2 linked regions of the Homo sapiens genome follow. The protein of the gene in region 1 interacts with the protein of each later gene in a pairwise test. Each region holds a gene or a part of one and is shown on either strand. Other genes may lie near its edges.

Region 1 (7,622 bases):
GGAGTTGAACAATGAGAATACATGGACACAGGGAGGGGAACAACACACACTGGGGCCTGTCAGGGGATGGGGGGCAAGGGGAGGGAAAGCATTAGGACAAATACCTAATGCATGTGGGGCTTAAAACCTAGATGATGGGGTTGATATGTGCAGCAAACCACCACGGCACATGTACACCTATGCAACAAACCTGCACATTCTGCACATGTATCCCAGAACTTAAAGTAAAATAATAAATAAATAAGAGGATTTACCACAGTTCAAGTTATAGATCAGAATTTTTTTTAAAGCCTGAATATTTAAATATTTAATTTGTCATGACATACAGTGTCTTAGTCTGTTCAGGCTGCTATAACAAAATACCTTAGACTAGATAATTTATAAACAAAAGAAATATATTGCTCGGGAAGTTGCAAAGTCCAAGATCAAGGTGCCAGAAGATTTGATGCTAGGCAAGCGCCCATTCTTCATAGATGTCGCCTTCTGTGTGTTCTCACATGGCAGAAGGGCAAAGAGGCTCCCTCTATTATAACAGCACTAAGTCCATTCCTGAGGATGGAACCCTCGTGACCTAATCATCTTACAAAGACCCCACCTCTTAATACCATCACCTCGGAATTTAGGCTACAACATATGAATTTTGGGGAGAACACAAACATTCAGACAATAGCATATACATATAATAGAATCACTGTGGAGCTCTTATAAACCATGTTTTGGTATAAATGTAATAATAGAATGAGTTCATGATATAATATAAGTGAAAAAGTAAGATATATAATTATAGGTACAGTATGATTACACTCTTTTATATAATGTATACAATGTATAATATGTGAAATATATATGTATGCATAATAAATACATGTACATAAAATATTTCCTGGTATGTACATGTGTATATATATTTTTCCATGTATATAATTTATACACATTAACAAAAAATGAGAAAATATGACAAATATTTAACAATAGCTATTTCTCCAGTGGCAGGATTACAGATAATTTTTATTTTCATACATTTCTGTCTGACTTTTCCAAATGTGCTATTATGAGCATAAATTTTATAATTAAATACAAGTCAATAAGCATTTTAAAGTGCCTATAACAGCCCATCAGCAAGTGAAGAGATGAGATAAAAATGTGTCTGCACTTGGTACACATATTGACTTTCTTTTACTTCCATTTCCAGATGATATTGACAAAGATATTGAAAAAATTTGATTAATATGCCTCAGCTTAGATTTGCTATGCGAGAGCAAAGTCTTATTGTTTTAAAGGAATTATTTGCTGATCAGCTATAGGCTGACTTGACCTCATATTCCTACCATGATAGTCCCACAGTGTAGGGATGGGGTGGTATGACTCCCAAGACTTGGAGTATGTTATTTTCTCAGGGCAATGAAGATTTGGAAAAATGATGGCAAAGACAGAATTACTATCTCATCAAAGACATCCCTCAGCAGTATCTGTGGGCTGTGCAGTGTTCTCAGTTCGATAAAGGATTAGAACACAATGCTTCTTTGGAGAGCTGTGACTTGATACTGCATCAATACCTTTCTGAGAATTGTTTTTCATTTTCTTGCCTCTTTAACTTATTAAGCCTTAGGAGAATTAGTTGAAAAGCCAAGTCTTTGGGGTAGATACTAACATTAAGTCTTCTACTCTGTCATTTGCAATCATAAATTCCAGAACACAGCTCCTAATTCCATTGTGTATTGTTTTCTAAGGGAATGATAGACAGATTCTTTATTTTTTTAAACCTCTAAGCCTACCACACTTGCCGAGTTCCTCACTAGTCACTAAGAAAGTCCTGCCAATCAATGCATGGGTTTATGTCCATTGCTCAGCTCTTCTCCAATCAGACTCATTCCCCCAGCATCCCTGACACACCACTCTAAAATGCGGCTGCTGATGGTTCACCTTCCTCACTTTTGTCTACAAATCTCAATCCTGCTGATTCCACAAATCCTACATCAAGCAATATCATTTTATGAGTCTTTCCACAACCACCCCTTCAGGGGATTCTTCAATTTCTGTCACACCGGAAGTCTTCAGAGTATCACCCTCAGAGCCAGGCAAGAGGGACCCCGGCTAGGGTTTCAGGCTTTAGAGAGTCCAGCTCTGACTCCTTTTGGCCATAGGACTAATGTGATATGCCCACCTGGAGCCTGTGCCCTCCTTTCTAGACCATGCCCTGGGACTCAGAATCCCTTGCCCCAGATGGCCACACAATCACTTTCAGGTCCATTCTCTCTGGGCAGACAACATCACAAATGTGTGTACCCCAAGGCCTGAGGCCAAGAAGGCAGCTTTCTGGCTGTAGGGGCTGAGGTGTTCACACACATTTGCATGGCCCCTCAAGACAAAGAACAAGGGGGAAAGTGAGAAGAAAAGAAGCAGCCAGTGATCAGGGCCAGCTCTTGCAACTTAACCATGTTGGGTCATTCTGATTAAACCACTTAGCTCAAGTGTAGTGCTCAAGACACTTAGCACATTCTCCAGCTGAATTTACCAGTGTTCATGGACTACCTGGGTTAGAAATATATTTCACTATAAAGTAGCATACAAAATGAGCAGAAAGGGAGTTAATAAGATTAATAATAGAGTTAGTGAATATTATGAGCTGAGTTTTTGAGAAACGTAATTTCTTTCAACACTAATAACAACCTTGTGGGGGTTCATTGTCTCCCTTTAAAAATTAGGAAACCAAGGCTTTGCCATGGTCGCATAGGAGGGTCAGAATAGCATCTTTATGACCCCAGAGCATACTCCTCTCCACTCCACCTACCCATGTGTACAACTCAGACACTTTCTGGGATGTCCACGTCAACTATTCTTTAAAGAGTAACCAACAGATGGATAGTTTTCTGTTTGTGAATCAATGGTAGGTGACTGAAAAATTGGTTCTGAGAGGTCGTTTTGCAAGGATTGATGGTCACAGGCTGAGAAGCAGATTTGAAAGACCTACCTGCTAGCAGCATGAAGAGCTGCTCTTCCTTATCTTAGTATTAACTAGTTAATTATTGGAGGTGGGTGCAGGGGTGGATTATGTGTATTCTTAATTGTTGTAGAGTGGGGACTGGGAGTTACAAAGACTTTTGCAATTTTCGACCTTGCAGAGCTGAGCAATTTTCAGTTGCTTTGCTTGCTGATAGCACTGCTTCCCTTATCTACCATGGAACACATCTTAATGAAGAATTTGCATTCACAGCATCAGGTTAATGAATACAAAACAAAACAGTGTATATCCCTCTGATGGATGGGATTTCGGAAGCACAGACATTATACACATATTTGATGATAAAGTACTAGAAGTGCAGGGAATTGAGGTCAAGCTTCCTCCTAAGGGGACTGAATCCCAGAGAGAGCAGGTGACTTAGTAATGAGAAGTGGAGCTGTCTGTTCAACCAGGATGCTCCTCCTATGGCACGAAATTCAGTTTTAAAAATATATTAAATTCAAATCAAATGTGTTAGGTGTGAGTTCTATCCCTACAGGTATGAGGCAGAGGTGGAGGACTTTGTATACAATAGAGAAATAAATACATATATTAGGTCTTCCATGACATAGGATTTACTGACCCTCTCATGGGCATTCCTCTGAGGCATTTTGAGATTTATTGCTATAAAAGAGCCTCCCAAACATTATCTCACTTAGAAAAGGTAATCATATTAATATGATTTTGTTCACAGGAGAGAATTTAAGTGCCACTGCTTAAAGTTATCTCCTTGTTCCTAGGTTTAAGGAGACCTAGTAAATAAGAACATTCCACTTTGTCTGCATCAATAAAGATGAAAGATGACTTAGGAGGTGGGAATTGGAGTGGGAAACATTTTTCTATGTTCCCGATATTCTGAAACACATGTGACTTTATTCAATCACAAGGTAAACAGATTATGTAATTTACCAGAAAAAAAGTAATAAGACTGGTGGTGCTAGGTTTTCATACTCCAGCTATTAATGAATTAAAGAGAGTAACACTCCTGAAAGGATACCATTTTCTCAAGAAAACTGGAAAAGATTGTGTGGCATTTAAAAAATACCAAACTCTGTGGCCATAATGCTCTTAAAATTCATCTGTCTAAAGAAATTAGAAGTGAATCATATTAAATAAGGTTTAGATATGTCCACTTTATCTTCCTGAAAATATAATTTCATTACAATCAGATTTGTCATATTTTATCTGATTTTACTTGCTATTTAAAACACCTTATAATTTACTTGCATATTTAGAATTACAATATTCTTAATATACTTCTTGATCTTAACAAAACCTAGGCCAAATGTTAATCAAATCAAGCTGTTCAAAGTTACTTTATAGCACATTCCTATGAACACACCATACACACAGCAATATCTAGCAAGGGTGTCAATTTTTCGTTATTTTTAAAAGCTCATTTAAAGAAGTTATTTACTACAAATGACTCTACACACACACACGCGCGCGCGCGCGCGCACACACACACACACACACACACAAACCTTTTTAAAGAAACGCTAGAACCCAACCCCCTCTAGGCCAGAGGAAAACATTACAGCTGTATACGCACTTGTGCCTGTTGCCGTAGAGTAATACGGTAGCAGCAGGAGATTACGGTACTAGCTGGGCTACTGCCTGAGTTACGTCAGCGAGAGCTGCAAAGTTCCTTGCTATTCTTTTCTGGTGTCGGGGAGCTGAATATTAAAAGGGTGATTGTGGAGTTACCGGTTATCTGCATTTTTTTTTCTTTTCTTATTTTGACTCTTTTTAAAAAATGCAGGTAAAGTGACAGCGGTTCAGGAGCTTAAAGACATCAGTGGTGGAGGGGTGAGTCAGCGGGTGCAAAAGGACAAGGATTTGGTGCCTCGGAGACACGGTCCCCTCTCCGCCTCCAGAGAAGAGCAGGCAGGCAGCTCCCGGGACCGAAGCCGGGTCCACATCCCCCGCGCGCGAGCTGGTGGCTCAGCAGCGGCGCTTCAGGTGAGTGCGCCGGGGCCGGCGTCCCGCAGGGCCGAGTGGGTGAGGGCAGACCTCCCCCGCCGTCTGGTGAGACGGAACCCCCACTTTTCCCAGCGCCTCCCGCTTTTTCCACCAGGTTTTATACCGGCCCCTCTACCCCACCCCCGATTCCCTTACATCTTCTGCGAAGTTGCCTTCTACTGAACAAGTGTCTTTTTAACCCTGTGTTTATCACCCTCGAGGTAGGAGGAAAAGGGTTTCTGCAGTGGCACGTTTTTAATACCACCTGTGAGGTCTCCAACTTGCGATTTTAACAAGAGTCTTTGCCCGAGGTCCCACCTCAGGGCCCAACCCCAGAAGGCAAGGTGGGCACTTCCTCACGCCGCGCTGTCCTGCCGAGTCCCTGCGGTAGGTTCGCAGTTGTGGAAACCCAGGTTTCTTACGCAGATGGTGGCCCCCAGCCCAGAAAATCGAAGGCGGCCCCTGCCCGCTGGCATGCCGGCTTAATGTTTACGCCTGCAAAATCCGCAGTGACTGTCACTTGCAAAGCTCCCTCTGCAGAGGGACGTCCTCCCCACCCCGTCCCCCGCCAGTCCCGCTACGGCTGGCAGCTGGAGCCCCTCGGGTGGCCAACAGTGAGGCTTGGAAAGGCGTCGTGGACAGACCTGGGTCGCTTTCTGTCTTCGGGTCCCTCCCGGCTTCGCTCGGGACCTGGCTCTCAAGCCAGCTTGGCTGGTGGACAGACCGGTGCGCTCTGCACACCCGAGTGCGAATTCCACCGGCGTGAGAGTGAGCGTGCTCGTGGTCCTGGCCCTGAGGTCCCTGGGTCGCAGCTGTTCCCTCTCCCAGGCCGCCCCCTCCAGGTGACTGCGAGGCAACCTGTTCTAACGGAAACCGAGTACATCCTCCAGAATTCCCCGGCTAGGATCCGTGCGACACACTCGCCAGCCGCAGTCGCCCCTCCGGGGCTTCGAGGATTTTAATTTCGTGGTACCTGCGCTCGAAATCCAGACTTCGAGCGCTGGAGCCTGGGGTTTTGGGGATTTGTTTTTTTGTTTGTTTTTCGCTTCGGATCCTGAACTCGGGCAGAGGTGACTCAGTAGAGTGCGCTAGGCAGGTTCCCAGTGGTGGGGGCGCGAGATGAGCTCCGAAGTCGCCTCCACCGCTGCCGGGCGAAGCAGCTTCTGGACCGCAGAACCAACCCGGCTCCCAACTGGTGTCCCCCAACCCGTCAAGCTCAGCACAGCCTCTTTCCCTGGGGCGCCTAGCTCAAAGCCGCCTTTCTCTTTGCGCTCTTTCAGGTGGACGCGGTCAAACGATGCCCCGCAGCCTCCTGGGTCTCAGCACATATTCCACACCTACGTCCCCTGACCTGTGCTCCTAGAAGCTGGAGAGAGCAGGAGCCTTCGGTGGGGCAGCTCAAAATGTAGGTAACTGCGGGCCAGGAGCAGCGCCCAACCTGTAGCGCTGCGCTACCCAACCATCGGTCCCTGCCTTTGAGCGTCGACGGCTGATCTTTTGGTTTGAGGGAGAGACTGGCGCTGGAGTTTTGAATTCCGAATCATGTGCAGAATGCTGAATCTTCCCCCAGCCAGGACGAATAAGACAGCGCGGAAAAGCAGATTCTCGTAATTCTGGAATTGCATGTTGCAAGGAGTCTCCTGGATCTTCGCACCCAGCTTCGGGTAGGGAGGGAGTCCGGGTCCCGGGCTAGGCCAGCCCGGCAGGTGGAGAGGGTCCCCGGCAGCCCCGCGCGCCCCTGGCCATGTCTTTAATGCCCTGCCCCTTCATGTGGCCTTCTGAGGGTTCCCAGGGCTGGCCAGGGTTGTTTCCCACCCGCGCGCGCGCTCTCACCCCCAGCCAAACCCACCTGGCAGGGCTCCCTCCAGCCGAGACCTTTTGATTCCCGGCTCCCGCGCTCCCGCCTCCGCGCCAGCCCGGGAGGTGGCCCTGGACAGCCGGACCTCGCCCGGCCCCGGCTGGGACCATGGTGTTTCTCTCGGGAAATGCTTCCGACAGCTCCAACTGCACCCAACCGCCGGCACCGGTGAACATTTCCAAGGCCATTCTGCTCGGGGTGATCTTGGGGGGCCTCATTCTTTTCGGGGTGCTGGGTAACATCCTAGTGATCCTCTCCGTAGCCTGTCACCGACACCTGCACTCAGTCACGCACTACTACATCGTCAACCTGGCGGTGGCCGACCTCCTGCTCACCTCCACGGTGCTGCCCTTCTCCGCCATCTTCGAGGTCCTAGGCTACTGGGCCTTCGGCAGGGTCTTCTGCAACATCTGGGCGGCAGTGGATGTGCTGTGCTGCACCGCGTCCATCATGGGCCTCTGCATCATCTCCATCGACCGCTACATCGGCGTGAGCTACCCGCTGCGCTACCCAACCATCGTCACCCAGAGGAGGGGTCTCATGGCTCTGCTCTGCGTCTGGGCACTCTCCCTGGTCATATCCATTGGACCCCTGTTCGGCTGGAGGCAGCCGGCCCCCGAGGACGAGACCATCTGCCAGATCAACGAGGAGCCGGGCTACGTGCTCTTCTCAGCGCTGGGCTCCTTCTACCTGCCTCTGGCCATCATCCTGGTCATGTACTGCCGCGTCTACGTGGTGGCCAAGAGGGAGAGCCGGGGCCTCAAGTCTGGCCTCAAGACCGACAAGTCGGACTCGGAGCAA
Region 2 (7,024 bases), 4.7 Mb from region 1:
CCACAATTCCTAGAAAATGAGTACACCTTTGTTCTCTTTTACGATTATTGTCAATTCTTGCTATTTATGGAAGTTATAGAATAACTTTATAGTTACTCTGTACAGTCACTGAAAACATTAGCAAATACTGACCCATTGCTCCTAGGGAAAATACAGGGTCAGGTTCCTTCAAGCCTCTGGTCACAACATTTTTGTCAACTGATCAGTGCATCACCTTGTTTTATGAGTGTTTCTTTTTAAAGACACCTTACTTAATATGGAGCTGATTCATTAACATTGAACTCATGACCAACAGCACTCTAACTCATGCCTCGAAGAAGCTTACCTAGCACACGTATGTTCTCTGTGAGGCATATCACAGCCTTCTTGCCCTTGGGAACACCAGAGAGCACTTCAGCATTATGCTCAGGGGCTGTTTTAAACAGCGAAACCCTCAACAAAGCGCACAAAAACACAAAAAACAGGGCACTTTAACTAGACCTCAAAAAGGACACTTGGTTACACAATGAGAGCCGAAAGCAGAAAGCGGAGCGTTGCCTTATTCCACCTCAGCTGGGAACATGCATGTTGGGTGACTGAAATTTTTCACTGCTCTGCAAATGTCCACAAATGACCGTGAAAGCCCTGAGAGTATTGATTTTGGGGACTACGAATAAATTTTAGCCAGTAGACAAATTTGCAAGCACAGAATCCATGAAAAATGAGGTTTGACTATGCTTTTGCTTTCCTCCTCTTTCTCTCCACTCACTAGTCACCATGACTTCCTCTCTCAGTTCCAGGAAACACTTCTACCCCCAGCTGCCAGAGCACCAACGGGCAGCCTCAGAGGGGAGCCTGTGGGAGATGGAGAGGTAGATCCCGTAGCCGGCGGGCGGCGACGTCCCGACCAGAGCGTGTGTGGCCCGATGGGGTCATCCCCTTTGTCATTGGGGGAAACTTCACTGGTGAGCGTGCTATTGTGGGTCCCAGAGTGTAACCAGCTTCCGGGCCTGGCCTTGTGGCAGCCCTGCCAGGCACGGAGGCGTGGGTGCCACCTGCAGCCCGAGTGCCCACACATTCCTTTCCAGGCAGTCTGCCCTCAGAATGGCTGTGACTCTTCAGTGGTGGGTAGGGGGTGGGACTGCCTGGACACCGTGGCAACCTGGCTTCCTTCCTCCTGGCAGGTAGCCAGAGGGCAGTCTTCCGGCAGGCCATGAGGCACTGGGAGAAGCACACCTGTGTCACCTTCCTGGAGCGCACTGACGAGGACAGCTATATTGTGTTCACCTATCGACCTTGCGGGTGAGCAGGAAGCCCTAGGCGCTGTACCTTCCGCCATTGCCCCAACCCAGGTTCTGCCCTGGGCCCTGCCACTGCCCCCAGCTGGGCACAGCCTTGGGTCCCTTTATCCCCTCCTGCTATGGGGCATCTACCCAGGAACTGCCCCCTGTGCGGCTGTGACCTCCAGCACACAGCCTGGGCACTCGGTGCTCAGGGCCCACCCCTCCCCTTCGCTCCCCTGCCGCCCCGCCCCCGGCAGCCTGGCCCCGCCCCTGAGTGGATGCACTCCCCCAGCTCGGGACCGCCCCCCTGAGCTGGCCCCGCCCTCCAGGTGCTGCTCCTACGTGGGTCGCCGCGGCGGGGGCCCCCAGGCCATCTCCATCGGCAAGAACTGTGACAAGTTCGGCATTGTGGTCCACGAGCTGGGCCACGTCGTCGGCTTCTGGCACGAACACACTCGGCCAGACCGGGACCGCCACGTTTCCATCGTTCGTGAGAACATCCAGCCAGGTAGGTACCTGCCCCTCGGTGCGGCCTTGGTGGGCGGCTCCCGCCCCAGCCCCCACCTCCAGGACCCCTGGGGGCAGTGGCAGCCGCTCCAGCCAGCCGTCATCGCCTGGGCCCGCAGCGCTGCCCACAGCCTGGGTTGAGCCAGCCCCTGCCCTTGAGGCATTTCCTCCTCCGTGTCAGATCAAGGACCCGCATCCATTGTGGAGCTCCTCTGGGAGGCTGGGCCAGGTCCTGGTCCTGGACAGCGGTAGCCCGGGCAGCCTCTAGGGTGGGGCATGGGCATAGTGGGCCGTCCTGGGGACTGCTCAGGCCTTTCTCCCCACCTTTGCCCACTATCTGCCCTCTGCCTGGTCTGCCCTCCGAGGGCTTTTCTCTCATTTTCTCGATGTCTCTGTCCCTCCCTTCCCGCCTCCTCCCTCTCTCCCAGGCGTTCTCCACTCTTCACTGCTCCTTCTCAGCTGTGGCTCTAGAAATGGTGCTTCCTTCCCATGTTCCCTTGAGTCCTCCATTCACCAGGCCCTCTGCTGGACAGGACTCTTCCTGAGACCCTCCCCATTCCCCAGGCTCCCCTTGGCTGCTCCCCGGACCCTCAGGTAGGGGGACTCTCTCAGATACAGGAAGGACTCCATTCCCTGCCCTGGAAAGTGAGCGTTGCATCCCAGGCAGACCCACCCCCTCCTCTCCCCCCACACCCTTTTCCTGATCTTGGCAGGGCAGGAGTATAACTTCCTGAAGATGGAGCCTCAGGAGGTGGAGTCCCTGGGGGAGACCTATGACTTCGACAGCATCATGCATTACGCTCGGAACACATTCTCCAGGTGGGAGACGGGATTGGGGCTGGGCCTCTGCTCGGGCAGCCCCACCCTGCCCTCTGTAGGCTATTCTCCTCCTGCCTCCCACTTCTGGGGCAGTGACCCAGGAAAAGAGTGGCCCTCTGGGGGGCTGTGGCCTCCAAGCAGAGGGTCCGTGGATGTTGCCTGCCCTCCTGTCCTCTTCCACGGGTGGGTCTGTGGCAGGGCCTTACCACCGTGTGCACCCAGGGCACCTGGCGGAGGAGGCTGAACCCAGCCACTCTGCAAGCCCAGCAGTGTGGGGTAGCCCCAAACTATCAGCCCAAAGGGTGCTGAGCTTTTATTTGTGGGCCATTTGTTTGTTTTTGTTTTTGTTTGAGACAGGATCTTGCTCTGTCACCTAGGCTGGAGTGCAGTGGCACAGTCATGGCTCACTGCAGCCTCAAACTCCTAGGCTCAAGGAATCGTCCCGTCTCAGCCTACTGAGTAGCTAGGATGACAGGCACACGCCACCGTGCCTTTTTTTTTAGAGATGGGGTCTCACTATATTGCCCAGGCTGGTCTCGAACTCCTGGGCTGAAGGGATCCTCCCACCTCGGCCTCCCAAAACGCTGAGATTACAGGCGCGAGCCACCAATGCCCAGCCATTCCTTTTTAATTAGTCTGCTTTTTTTGTAATTGGCCAGTTTGCACGAAGCCTGACCCCTGCCCTGGACTAGCCCCCATGCCCAGCTCCGAAGCACATCCTCCTTATCTGAGGCCCAGGTCCCCAGAAGCCACAACCAGAGCCCTCAAAGGTGGTGGCCCAGCCTCCCCTCCCCCAAGATTCTCCTTAGCAGTGTGGGAAATGGCACCTCCCTCCTCCTCAAACTCCTTCCTGGCCTGGCCATTCCCAGGCCTGGTGCTTTGCTCATCCTCTGTCTGTGTCCCAGACAGTGGCCCTGCCCCCTCTTCTCAGTGCTTCTACCCGATCTGCTCTTCCTGCCTGCAGACCTGCAGGAACAGAGACCAAGGAAGGGTGGTGAGGTCATTCTGCCCCCCACACCCACAGACCCGGCCTTACATTTCCCACCACATCCCACCCCACCCCCTGCTGCGATCCACCCAGCTGGGTGTGAGTCAGGGGCCCTGGGGAGGTGGAGGGCTGCCTGCCTCCCCTTCACTCTGCTCCTCCCAGTGCAAACACCCAGGATTCAGCAGGGAGGAATGGCCAGGACAGGAGACACTGATAGATTGGGAGCTGGTGGGGCTGTCCCCGGGGCTTGGTCTGGCTGCAGTGGAATCTGCCTTTGGCCTTGTTCCAGGTGCTTTCAGATGCAGCCTGTGCCAGCAGGGTGAGGAGCTGGCCTGGGGAGTCCTGGGAGAAGTTTAGTTAGGGCTGGAGCAGCATGAGGGGCTGCAGAAGCAGGGGCCCAGTGGGGCTGGAGAGAGATGACCCGCTAGGGGCCTGTAGCTTTCCTGGGGCTGGGAGTTGTGGCCAGCCTGAGCTGGGAGCACCAGTGGGTCCAAGGGCACCCTGGACCTGCATCCCTGACCTCCCAAAGTGTTCCTGGGGCTCCCCCGACTCCTGTGGTGTGGCTGCCACGGAGCAGGGTGGCTGCTGGTCAGTGGGTAGCATAATGACAGGGTGAGACGACTCCACCCGGCCCTGACCCTGCTGAGGAATGTCTGAGCTCCAGCAGGGTCGTGACTTGTGGGTACAGATGGGCATGCCACCCACTCCCTGCCCACTGTCCATGAGACGCTCACCCTTACTTTTCTCCCTCTTCTTCAGGGGCATCTTCCTGGATACCATTGTCCCCAAGTATGAGGTGAACGGGGTGAAACCTCCCATTGGCCAAAGGACACGGCTCAGCAAGGGGGACATTGCCCAAGCCCGCAAGCTTTACAAGTGCCCAGGTCAGGGCAGAGAAGGGATGGGTGAGGGCGTGGAGGGCAGGGCCTGAGGGAGGCAGAGGCCAGGTGCCTGGTGCCACCAAGAAGGCTTAGGCTGCAAGTCTTAGAGAATGGTGTGGCGGGGGAGGGGACCCCATAGGAGGGGCAGTGTCCAAGTGAAGGAGGCCGCTGGGGGTAGGCTCAGGTGGGTGGTCAGAAGCCGAGCCGCCACCTTCTGAGGGTCTGTAGGGGCGGAAGTGGGGAGAACAGCAATCCTAGGAGAGGGAGGTGGCACGGAGCCCCACCAAGGGAGCTTGACCTTAGCTCTGGAACCCATATTGCCTTCACAAACAGGGCAGCACTGGGCTGGGAGGTAGGATGGCGTGTGCTATATGTGAGGTAGGGGGGTGGATCTTATAGGGGCAGGACCATTGCAGACACCCTCCCACTCCTCAGGCATTCTCCCCTCCCCCAGAGGATGCCAAGGTTCAGGGGTGGGTGAGCCAGAAGATGGGGGGATTTGGCGCCTGCAGCCCTGCCCTGTCATTTCCTTTCCTCACAGCCTGTGGAGAGACCCTGCAAGACAGCACAGGCAACTTCTCCTCCCCTGAATACCCCAATGGCTACTCTGCTCACATGCACTGCGTGTGGCGCATCTCTGTCACACCCGGGGAGAAGGTACGTGTGGGCTCAGCCTCTGAGCCTCCCCCTCCCCTGCGGGTCCCCATACCTCAGGGACTTCTCCCACAGTGGGGGTCAATATGGGTGCCAGCGACCTACCTGGCTACCGTAAATGTATCAAGTCCAGAGCGCTGATGGAGCACGGCTGTAGGAAGGGGCTCCTGGCATTCACCGCCTTCCCTGGCATCTCCCAATAATTATAAATTAGTGTTAATTTGCACATAGCACTTGCTGTGTAGGTCTATTTTGATTATCTAGTTCTTCTTGGGTGATTTTCCTACATCACCTCTTTTAGTTTTTACGGCTACCTCCACCTTTATTTTACAGATGAGGAAACTGAGGCACAGGGTGGTTAAGTAACTTGCCCAAGGTCACACAGCTAACAAGGACTGAGGTGGGACTGGAGCTCTTCTCAGGTCTGGGTTCCCTTGGATGAACTGCTCAGCCTGACGCTCAGCTCTCATCCGTCTCATCAGGGCTTGGGCCAGGGGCTCCTGAAGGGCTCTTCCCGATTCTGACAGGCTCTAGTCCTGGGAACAATTAAGGAATGATGCAGGCGCCTCCAGCAGGATGCTGCCTGGTGGGTCTCTCCTTCTCACCCATCCTTCCCCTTGCTCAGGCCAGGACCCTCCAGTCTTTGCTCTGTGGGCCTGATTTTCTGTGCCTGGCTCTCCACTGGCACTCTATTTCTCCTCCCTCTACCTGTCACCTGCTATATCAGTTCTGATCCATAGAGAAAGCTCAGCTCCACCTTCTGTCTTACCTTGTGGGGAAGTACCCAGTTCTCATACTTGCTGCCACGTGGGGCTGGCTTCGGGCATACTACGGGATCGGGTCAGAGCTGTCTCCATCTTCACAGTCTAGCTCGGATGTGACCTCCTTCAGGAAGCCTTCCCTGCTCGTTACTAATTGGTGGCAAGTAGGGTGGACACCGAGTGTGGGGAGGGCCCCCGAGCCTGTCCGGTCAGGTTTCCCACTGCATGGTTGATTAGCCCTGTTTGAATACCTAAGGTGATGAGAGGCTCACTACTTTTCAGAATAATTCATTCTGTTCTCTAGCCAGCTCTTTTTTTTTTTTTTTCTTGAGACAGAATCTCACTTTTTCACCCAAGGTGGAGTGCAGTGGCGCGATCTCAGCTCACTGCAACCTCTGCCGCCCAGGGTCAAGCGATACTCCCACCTCAGCCTCTGGAGTAGCTGGGACTGCAGATGTGCGCTACCATGCCCGGCAATTTTTTTTCTATTTTTGGTCGAGACAGGGTTTCGCCATGTTGCACAGGCTGGTCTCGAACTCCTGAGTTCAAGTGATCCTCCTGGCTCAGGCTTCCAAAGTGCTGGGATTACAGGCGTGAGCCACCGCATCTGGCCTGTAGCCAGCTCTTAATGTTACAACGTCTCTTCTTCTCCCTTAAGCCCCCCAGTTGCTCCAGTACTTTCCTCAAGAGCAATGCAGGATAACTCACTCCCTCTTTCCCATGTCAGCCCTCCTAATGTGGGGAGGCTACTCCCATCACTTCTTAGATCCATTCCCGGTCTTTTCACACAGACTCTGGACCTCCGCACCAACCCCAGACCTTCTGTGTCCATATTTTTATTGCTCCCAAGCTACAAGACTTTATTTTCCTTGATTGGGGCATGGTTCTTAATGTCATAGTGCAGCGTTGAGCTGGATTCAATTCTATTATTGATTGCATTGTTCATTTCGACATCTCAAGATCATTTTGAATCAGAATTTCACCATCCATCAGGTAGCCCTCCTCTTACCTCTGCCATGAGCTCCTTTGATAAGCATGACTTCTAGGTCTTCGTCCTGGCCTTTGATCAAAACATAGAACAGCACACAAACCAAAGAAGAACCAAGATTTCCCTCCAAATTGGCATTAATCTTTTAATCTAGGCTTTGAGCA

What was found. Proteins that work in one complex are often made in the same cells at the same time.
Region 2: the proteins of ADRA1A (region 1) and BMP1 interact in a two-hybrid assay, tested with the Homo sapiens proteins (one study listed by IntAct).

The regions. Positions count from the first base shown.
Region 1 is NC_000008.11:26,864,277-26,871,898, reverse strand, and holds the start of ADRA1A (alpha-1A adrenergic receptor), read left to right. Parts: upstream 1-4,620; 5' UTR 4,621-4,963; intron 4,964-6,243; 5' UTR 6,244-6,929; coding exon 6,930-7,622. UniProt on the Homo sapiens protein: This alpha-adrenergic receptor mediates its action by association with G proteins that activate a phosphatidylinositol-calcium second messenger system. Its effect is mediated by G(q) and G(11) proteins.
Region 2 is NC_000008.11:22,175,370-22,182,393, forward strand, and holds part of BMP1 (bone morphogenetic protein 1 isoform 3 precursor), read left to right. Parts: intron 1-773; coding exon 774-944; intron 945-1,163; coding exon 1,164-1,281; intron 1,282-1,554; exon of another isoform or gene 1,555-1,591; coding exon 1,592-1,770; intron 1,771-2,482; coding exon 2,483-2,588; intron 2,589-4,335; coding exon 4,336-4,460; intron 4,461-4,998; coding exon 4,999-5,114; intron 5,115-7,024. UniProt on the Homo sapiens protein: Metalloprotease that plays key roles in regulating the formation of the extracellular matrix (ECM) via processing of various precursor proteins into mature functional enzymes or structural proteins.